Regions from separate parts of the Homo sapiens genome. Here all the other regions are linked to region 3. Evidence: fine-mapped expression QTL. A gene starts in region 3. Each other region holds a variant in brackets. All regions are shown on one strand. Distances are between the middles of the regions. Region 1 overlaps SBF1 (SET binding factor 1). Region 2 overlaps SBF1 (SET binding factor 1). Region 3 holds the start of ADM2 (adrenomedullin 2).

The links. PIP is the estimated chance that this variant, and not a neighbour inherited with it, causes the effect.
Region 1: its variant is fine-mapped to the expression of ADM2 in whole blood (INTERVAL, PIP above 0.99).
Region 2: its variant is fine-mapped to the expression of ADM2 in whole blood (TOPMed, PIP 0.98).

Annotation. Positions count from the first base shown.
Region 1 is chr22:50,445,973-50,448,722 of GRCh38, reverse strand. It overlaps SBF1 (SET binding factor 1), which reads left to right. Exons shown (of 41, transcript NM_002972.4): 37 at 73-180; 38 at 279-490; 39 at 1,114-1,201; 40 at 1,270-1,401; 41 at 1,483-2,750. The coding sequence ends at 1,581. Among named protein-coding and RNA genes, the nearest start is that of SBF1, 28 kb to the left of the region's middle. The variant TGG/G (reference allele first, on the strand shown) is at 1,257.
Region 2 is chr22:50,458,826-50,461,575 of GRCh38, reverse strand. SBF1 (SET binding factor 1) reads left to right here. Exons shown (of 41, transcript NM_002972.4): 22 at 1-53; 23 at 290-417; 24 at 864-1,042; 25 at 1,168-1,304; 26 at 1,417-1,624; 27 at 1,910-2,106; 28 at 2,184-2,321. Among named protein-coding and RNA genes, the nearest start is that of SBF1, 15 kb to the left of the region's middle. The variant C/T (reference allele first, on the strand shown) is at 1,386.
Region 3 is chr22:50,479,850-50,482,599 of GRCh38, reverse strand. ADM2 (adrenomedullin 2) reads right to left here and starts at 1,057. Exons shown (of 3, transcript NM_001253845.2): 1 at 837-1,057; 2 at 643-763; 3 at 1-33. The coding sequence starts at 752. RefSeq lists silencers at 811-930, 981-1,270.

The sequences.
Region 1 (2,750 bases), 34 kb after region 3:
TTCCTTTTGTCTTTTCGTGCTCTAGTCTGGATATTTCCTTTTGAATAAACTTGCCATTAATTCTTCCCCCAGGAGCTGCAGAGGCTGGAGACAGAGTTGGGCCAACCCGCTGAGCGCTGGAAGGACACCTGGGACCGGGTGAAGGCTGCACAGCGCCTCGAGGGCCGGCCAGACGGCCGTGTGAGTGAGGGCCAGTGTGAGCGTCCACGGTGGGCGTGTTGCTGGGAGAAAGTGGAGTCTGTCCAGCCCTGACCCAAGTCCCAACCTCCTGTTCCCAGGGCACCCCTAGCTCCCTCCTTGTGTCCACCGCACCCCACCACCGTCGCTCGCTGGGTGTGTACCTGCAGGAGGGGCCCGTGGGCTCCACCCTGAGCCTCAGCCTGGACAGCGACCAGAGTAGTGGCTCAACCACATCCGGCTCCCGTCAGGCTGCCCGCCGCAGCACCAGCACCCTGTACAGCCAGTTCCAGACAGCAGAGAGTGAGAACAGGTATGAGGGCACCTCCCACTGCCACATGGACACCTCTGAGCTGGTGTTCTGGGGTCCCAGGCAGTCCTCTGGTGGGAGATTGCGGGTGCTTTTGAGGAGCTTGCTTAAGTATACACCACCACTGGGAGGGGTTTGGGGTGTCGAACTGGTGACCACAGCTGACCACAGCCTGCAGTGGCTGAGGGAGGAGTAGAGAGAGGGCAGTGGTGGGGCCCCCGTGAGTCTGGAGTCTGGCAGGATCCATCCCAGGCAGCTGCTGCCGTGGCTGCTTCTACAGATCTACCTGCCTGGCCATCCCTCTCCTCGTAAGGGCGCCTGCCCTGTGTAGGGGGCTGCTTTCCCAAGACCCTGAGGCTCTGGTGTGGGGATGCTCCCTGGAGTCTGGAGGGTGTGAGGCGCCCTTCACTGTCTCCTTTCTGGGCGTCGTCTTCTTGGGCCTGCAGCCCCCCATCAAAGGCTTCTTTGTGGCCCCCTGGCCAGTGCTCTGGGCTTAGGTCAGTTCTGGGGACAGGGTGCCTGGTCTTACCTCCTGGGCTGGGACAGCAAGGGGGGGACGACTGCTGGGGCCTGGGCTTGGCTGGGCCATGACGGTCAGCCTGGCCCTGGTTCTGCTGGAAATGCAGGTCCTACGAGGGCACTCTGTACAAGAAGGGGGCCTTCATGAAGCCTTGGAAGGCCCGCTGGTTCGTGCTGGACAAGACCAAGCACCAGGTGAGTGATCAGGTGGTGGGGGGGACTCACGGGGGAGGGGGCTCCGCTGACTCTG[TGG/G]CCTCCTCCAGCTGCGCTACTACGACCACCGTGTGGACACAGAGTGCAAGGGTGTCATCGACTTGGCGGAGGTGGAGGCTGTGGCACCTGGCACGCCCACTATGGGTGCCCCTAAGACTGTGGACGAGAAGGCCTTCTTTGACGTGAGCCTTGGCCGGGGCTTGGGAGAGGGGAGGGGCTCTGCGGTGTGGGGGCTGCGGAGTCAGTAACCCGCCCTTCCCCAGGTGAAGACAACGCGTCGCGTTTACAACTTCTGTGCCCAGGACGTGCCCTCGGCCCAGCAGTGGGTGGACCGGATCCAGAGCTGCCTGTCGGACGCCTGAGCCTCCCAGCCCTGCCCGGCTGCTCTGCTTCCGGTCGTTACCGACCACTAGGGGTGGGCAGGGCCGCCCCGGCCATGTTTACAGCCCCGGCCCTCGACAGTATTGAGGCCCCGAGCCCCCAGCACTTGTGTGTACAGCCCCCGTCCCCGCCCCGCCCCGCCCGGCCGGCCCTAACTTATTTTGGCGTCACAGCTGAGCACCGTGCCGGGAGGTGGCCAAGGTACAGCCCGCAATGGGCCTGTAAATAGTCCGGCCCCGTCAGCGTGTGCTGGTCCAGCCAGCGGCTGCAGGCGAGTTTCTAGAACCAGAGTCTATATAAAGAGAGAACTAACGCCACGCTCCTGTGCCTGCCTTCCCCACTCCCCGGCTGCCTGCTCTCGGCCTACCCAGAGGGTCCCATCTGCCCCTATCCAGGCCCACCTGGCGGGAGGTTGGCATCTTTCTCGTGAGCCTCTCCTGGTGCCTGGGTCCACCCAGCTCGGCCTGCATGTCCCTGGGAGTGACTTTGCTCTGGGGGCGGATCGAGCAGGAGGCTTCACTGGGGACTTGCTTGATTCCCTCCACGCCTCAGGGCTGGTCTAGGGGCCGGCACGGCTGGAGAGGAAGCCCCCATCCCTACCCAGGGGATGCAGAAGCTGACCTCACAGAGGCTTGGGGGTGAAAGGGTGGGTGGTCATTTGACCCCAGAAGGCTGTTGCAGGTCCAGAGGACACTTGAGGTGGACGTCAGTTTCTGGCTAGACCCGAGCTGAAGGGATGGAGGCCGGAGGCGGGGGGGGGGGGGGGACAGTGGGCTCCCAGGGGAATGCAGGTTGACCACATCTGGCTCCTGCCAGGCAACGAGCAGCATCTGGCAGAGTAAGGGGCCAACGCCCATGGGGGATGGACCCTCTCAGTTCTTGGGAATTCTGCCCCAAAAGTCCTTTCCCTGGGGTCTCAGAGGGCCCCCGTCCTTCCCTTCTTGGTGTCACTGTGGCCCCTCACTGCTCTTTTCCTATTCAAACCTGAGTCCCACCAGGCCCAGGGCTTCACCTGCTGAGCTGTTGTGTCCTTGCCTGTGACGAGGCCTGGCCAGGGGTGCAGGAGCAGAAGGTGGGGAGGGTTATAGACGCTGCAAAGGCCAAGAGAACATCTGAGAGTGGCAGCTGGTGACCTGGCCAGAGGGGCTGG
Region 2 (2,750 bases), 21 kb after region 3:
CTTCCTCACCACGTACCGGGTCATCTTCACGGGGATGCCCACGGACCCCCTGGGTGAGCCTGCAGACTCTCTGGCCCTGTCGCCCCCTCTCCCCCAGGTCTTTGGGATGGATGGGCTTTCCCTGCCTCCCTCTCCCTTTTCTCGGGGGTTCTGGGTGCCCGTGGGAAACGGGCCTTTGTCTGCTCCTTCCCCACCCACTTGGGATTCCCCATAACTGTGGTACCCTGAGATTCTGGGACCCCCCCCCCCTTACCTTCCTTGCTTCTGACTCTGCCTGGCCTGTCCTAAGTTGGGGAGCAGGTGGTGGTCCGCTCCTTCCCGGTGGCTGCGCTGACCAAGGAGAAGCGCATCAGCGTCCAGACCCCTGTGGACCAGCTCCTGCAGGACGGGCTCCAGCTGCGCTCCTGCACATTCCAGGTGGGGCGCGGTGCGCGGGTGGGGCTCTCATCCCCCGCCCTGGTCTTTCTCCTGCAAACCGGTCTTTCTTGTATGAACCATTTTTAGGCCAGTCTCCAGCAGTGGCCCTGTTGTTACGCTTGCATGTCTGGGGCCCTCACTGTGGCTCTTGAGTTGATGTCCACTGTTTGATGTGCGGTCTTTGGGTCCTTGTCCTTTCCTTGGGGCGCCGGCCCTCAAGTCCGTGTCTTGGGTGTGCCTTGCAAACCCAGGCCTCAGCTCACAGCCACTGAGATTTCGAGTTTACACAAGCGCTTGCCTTCGTGTGACACAGATACAGGCCTTTGCCTGGGGCCTGCTTCTCTCTCTGTCATGGCTGCGAGGGGAAGGGGAGCCTGGCAGTGTCAGAGTTGGGGGAGGGGCTGGGGGGCCACCCACACCCCTAAGGGCTGCTTTTACTGACACAGCTGCTGAAAATGGCCTTTGACGAGGAGGTGGGGTCTGACAGCGCCGAGCTCTTCCGTAAGCAGCTGCATAAGCTGCGGTACCCGCCGGACATCAGGGCCACCTTTGCGTTCACCTTGGGCTCTGCCCACACACCTGGCCGGCCACCGCGAGTCACCAAGGACAAGGGTCCTTCCCTCAGGTATGGATCTGGGTCCCAGGCAGGGCAGCTGGGCCTCAGCCGTGTTCCCGCTCCAACCCTCCTAGGCCCCTGTGCTCATCTTTGTCCCTCCTCCTCTCACCTTTGCTGACTCTCGTGGGCCTCAGAACCCTGTCCCGGAACCTGGTCAAGAACGCCAAGAAGACCATCGGGCGGCAGCATGTCACTCGCAAGAAGTACAACCCCCCCAGCTGGGAGCACCGGGGCCAGCCGCCCCCTGAGGACCAGGAGGACGAGATCTCAGGTGGAGGGGTGGGGGTGGAGTCCTGGGTGGTCTCTGGATGCTGACATTGGCCAGGGAGGATCAGGGCAGGCGGAGTGGCCC[C/T]GTGATGACCACGTGTGCCCGGCCTGTGCAGTGTCGGAGGAGCTGGAGCCCAGCACGCTGACCCCGTCCTCAGCCCTGAAGCCCTCCGACCGCATGACCATGAGCAGCCTGGTGGAAAGGGCTTGCTGTCGCGACTACCAGCGCCTCGGTCTGGGCACCCTGAGCAGCAGCCTGAGCCGGGCCAAGTCTGAGCCCTTCCGCATTTCTCCGGTCAACCGCATGTATGCCATCTGCCGCAGGTGAGGGCCGGCCAGGGCTGGCCCGGGTGGTGGACACGTGACTGGGTGTCTTCCCTGCCCGCTGTGGGCCTGGGCCACGGCTTCTGGTCATGTAAGGAATGTGGAGGGGGAGACTCCGGGCAGAGGGACGGGCCACAGGGCTGGGGGGTGGCTGGGGGGCCCCGTGGCTGAGCTGGAAGCGCCTCCTGCTGGGAGCCATGGGCTGGCTCCTCTTGCCCTGCTTGGGGCGTGAGCCTGGAGGCGGGTGGGGTCGCCAGCCACCTTCACGCCTCTGCCTCCTCTCAGCTACCCAGGGCTGCTGATCGTGCCCCAGAGTGTCCAGGACAACGCCCTGCAGCGCGTGTCCCGCTGCTACCGCCAGAACCGCTTCCCCGTGGTCTGCTGGCGCAGCGGGCGGTCCAAGGCGGTGCTGCTGCGCTCTGGAGGCCTGCATGGCAAAGGTGTCGTCGGCCTCTTCAAGGCCCAGAACGCACCTTCTCCAGGTACCTCCTGCGTCCTGCCCTGTGCCTGCCCTGCCCTATCTCACCCTCCCCTCCCTCAGCTCCGTGTCCTCCCCCAGGCCAGTCCCAGGCGGACTCGAGTAGCCTGGAGCAGGAGAAGTACCTGCAGGCTGTGGTCAGCTCCATGCCCCGCTACGCCGACGCGTCGGGACGCAACACGCTTAGCGGCTTCTCCTCAGCCCACATGGGCAGTCACGGTGAGGGTGCTTGTGGGCAGACGGTGGGGCAGGGGCACTTTGGGGGGCCGTGGTGGCATTTATGGTTTGGCAGGCAGGCCAGGGAGGAGCAGAAACGGCGCTGGTCATGGATGTTTGGGTGTGGGATGAGGAGCATGCCCTCCGGGTGCCGTGGGGCAGGGGCGGGAAGCCTGTCCAGACCAAGTGTGTGCCCAGACCAGGTGTGTGCCCTGACCTCCTGCCCGCCCTGACGTCCTGCCCGCTCTCCACCTCTGCGTCTGCTGCAGCTTCCTGTAGGGTCCTCCGGGTGCTGCCTCTACGCGGCTCTGTCTTACCATTTCCCACAGCCTGGAAACATCCCAGATGCTCCTCTGTCCTGTTCCCTCCCAGTGTCACTGTTTTTCCTCATCCCCCACACTCCACCCTCCCTGCATCCCCCAATCCAGACTG
Region 3 (2,750 bases):
AGGCTGCTGGAAGGGCTCCGGGCTGGGGGCTCCCTGCAGAGGCAGATGGAGAATGTCAACCAGATGGCTCAGCCTTTTGGAGAACTCACACCTGCCCACTTTTGCCTCTACACAGGCCTGGGTCACTGCCAGGGGAAGCCCACAGCCCCCATCCACACACAGCCTGGAGCACGGCCAGGGGAAGCCCGCGTCCCCTCTGGGCTTGGGCCTGGGACCATCTCAGTGGCCCGGGTCACGTGTCCCGGGAACCGGCACCTCCTTGGCCAAAGGGCACCCCGGCGGCCCAGCCTCTGCGGGTCACCACTCTCAGGGCTCAGGGTGACTCGGCTTCTGCCCTCCCTTTAGGGTGGTCACAGGCCGGCCAGGGATACCGCCAGCCTCCCCTCCCCCAGCAGACACCCCCAGAAGAGGGGCTGCTGTGCCCATGTGTGTGGGGAGGAGCAACTGCCCTGTGTAGGGAGGCAGAGAAAGAGGGGCCTCTGGCCCTGCTCAGGCGCTCCTGAGCCTGGGGTAGGGGCCTTTGTTTGGGAGGGGAGTCCTAGCAGCAGGTGGAGGCGTGGAGGGAGGGCGGCCCCGCGGCCCCCGGCACTCTGCTTCCCTGCGGGGGCCAGAGGGGTTGGCTGGCCCAAGACCTGGACTCACCTGGGTTTGACGGGTCGCGGGTCCCCGCCCAGGCTGCGGGACAGCGAGCCAGGGAGCTGCAGGCAGAGGAGGCTGATGCAACCCAGGGCGGCCGTCGGGATCCGGGCCATGGCGGGCGGGGCTGCAGGGGAGGGGGCGGTGAGCCGGGCACGTCGGGGGCAGCCTGAGCCGCGAGCCACCCCCTCCGCCGGCACCTCGGGGAGTCCTCCGCGGTCGGGGCGCCGGGCGTGGGCGTGGCAAGCTGGGCACGGGCGTCCGTCGGGGCGCAGGCCTCGGGCGCGAAGCGGGCAGCGGGTCTGGGGTCGGCCGCGGGTCCGGGGCGCAAGGCGGAGCGGGCTGGGCGGGTTGGGGGTCCTGCCTGGAGCGGAGTCGCGGCCCGGGATGGCACCTCCAGGGCTGAATACGTAGCCTTTCCAGCAAGGGGCGGAGCCGGATGCACGGACGGGGCGGGGCGCCCCTCCTCCGGGCCCAGCCACCCTCGGGGCGGGGAGGGGGCTGCGGCGAAGGGAGCGGTGGAGGGGCCTGTCCCCGCTGGGAGCGCTCGGCGACCGGCCCGGGACCGCGGGACCGCCAGCCTCACTCCAAGCGCCTTCTGGTGGGGACGCAGCCCCGAGCCTGCGGGGGCCGGACTTCCCCACGCTGCAGCGGGGTTCTGGGGGGCGAACCGTCGTCCGAGCTGATCCCACGGCTGGGGCGGACTCGGACCCGACGGGGCCCACCCCGTCAACCACCTCCCGAGTCCGGGCGGTCCCACCCTCCAGGGTCTGACCCGGTGGACCCCGGCCCCCCAGCCTGACCAGCAAGTCCGCGGGATTCCGCAGCGGGCTGGCCATTCCGCTCTCCTCTGACGCGGTGCCGCCGACCCCGGGGCTGCGCTCCTAAAAGGCTGTACCGACCCTCGGCCGCTCCAACCCCGGACCAAAGTATTGCACGGTTTTTGTAACAGATTTAAAGTGTCCGGGCGCGGTGGCTCACGCCTGTAATCCCAGCAGTTTGGGAAGCCGAGGCGGGCGGATCACGAGGTCAGGAGATCGAGACCATCCTGGCTAACAAGGTGAAAGGCCGTCTCTACTAAAAATACAAAAAATTAGCCGGGCGTGGTGGCGGGTGCCTGTAATCTCAGCTACTCGGGAGGCTGAGGCAGGAAAGGCTGAGGCTTGAATCCAGGCGGCGGAGGTTGCAGTGAGCCGACATCGCGGCATTGCACTCCAGCTTGGGCGACAGAGCGAGACTCCGTCTCAAAAAAAGAAAAAAAAAAAAGAAAAAGAAAAATTTAAAACGAGTGAAACGTGAGACTCCCCTCACCATTGCCACCCACTTGGGACCCCTACCCTGGTCTGGGGGGGAGCCCTCTCCTGACTTGCCCTGGGCACACCTAGGTGTGGCTATGTGAGGCACACACATCCATGTGTGCAGATTTGCAGTAGGACTGAGACCCCGTTCTTTCCTGAGAGCTTGTTTGGAGGTCCTGGCAGAGGAGCGCAGCTACTCGAAGCCCGGTCCTCCATCCTCTTCGATGGAGCGTGCAGCTTCGGAGGGACGCACAGGGAACAGTGGGGAAGGAGGGGGACACCTGCCTCTGAGCCAGCCACATCAGCCGAATCAACACTGGTGACCAGTGGGGTGACAGGCGTCACAGCCCGACCGTCCTCACATCAGAGACCCCACTCTTTCCTATGGTTGGATCTACTCCAACATATAGGTGTTGTATGATTCATCTCATCTGCTATTAATATGAAATTAGGTGACTGCCAGTCTTTTCATGAGTTGCTGCCTTGAGCTCACAGATGTGTCTATAGGACACCTTCCTGGAAGTAGAAATTCTGGTTGAAGGTGAGCATGTGTTTATGTTGATAGATGGTTCACTGTTCTCCACAGAGCTTTCGCCTACCCACTGTCCACGAGTCCTGGACTTGGTGTCACGGGTTCCAAGCTGCTGAGACTGGCCTCTCTGTTGGGTGAGCTGAGGATCTCTGCGTCCGTTCGTGCTTCCCCTTCTGTCTCCCCAACCCCTGCGCTCACCCCGTAACCCTCCTGCTGACACACCATGGGAGCACAGTCAACATTTGCTGGGTGAATAAGTCGAGGAGTGCCGAGCACACACCCCA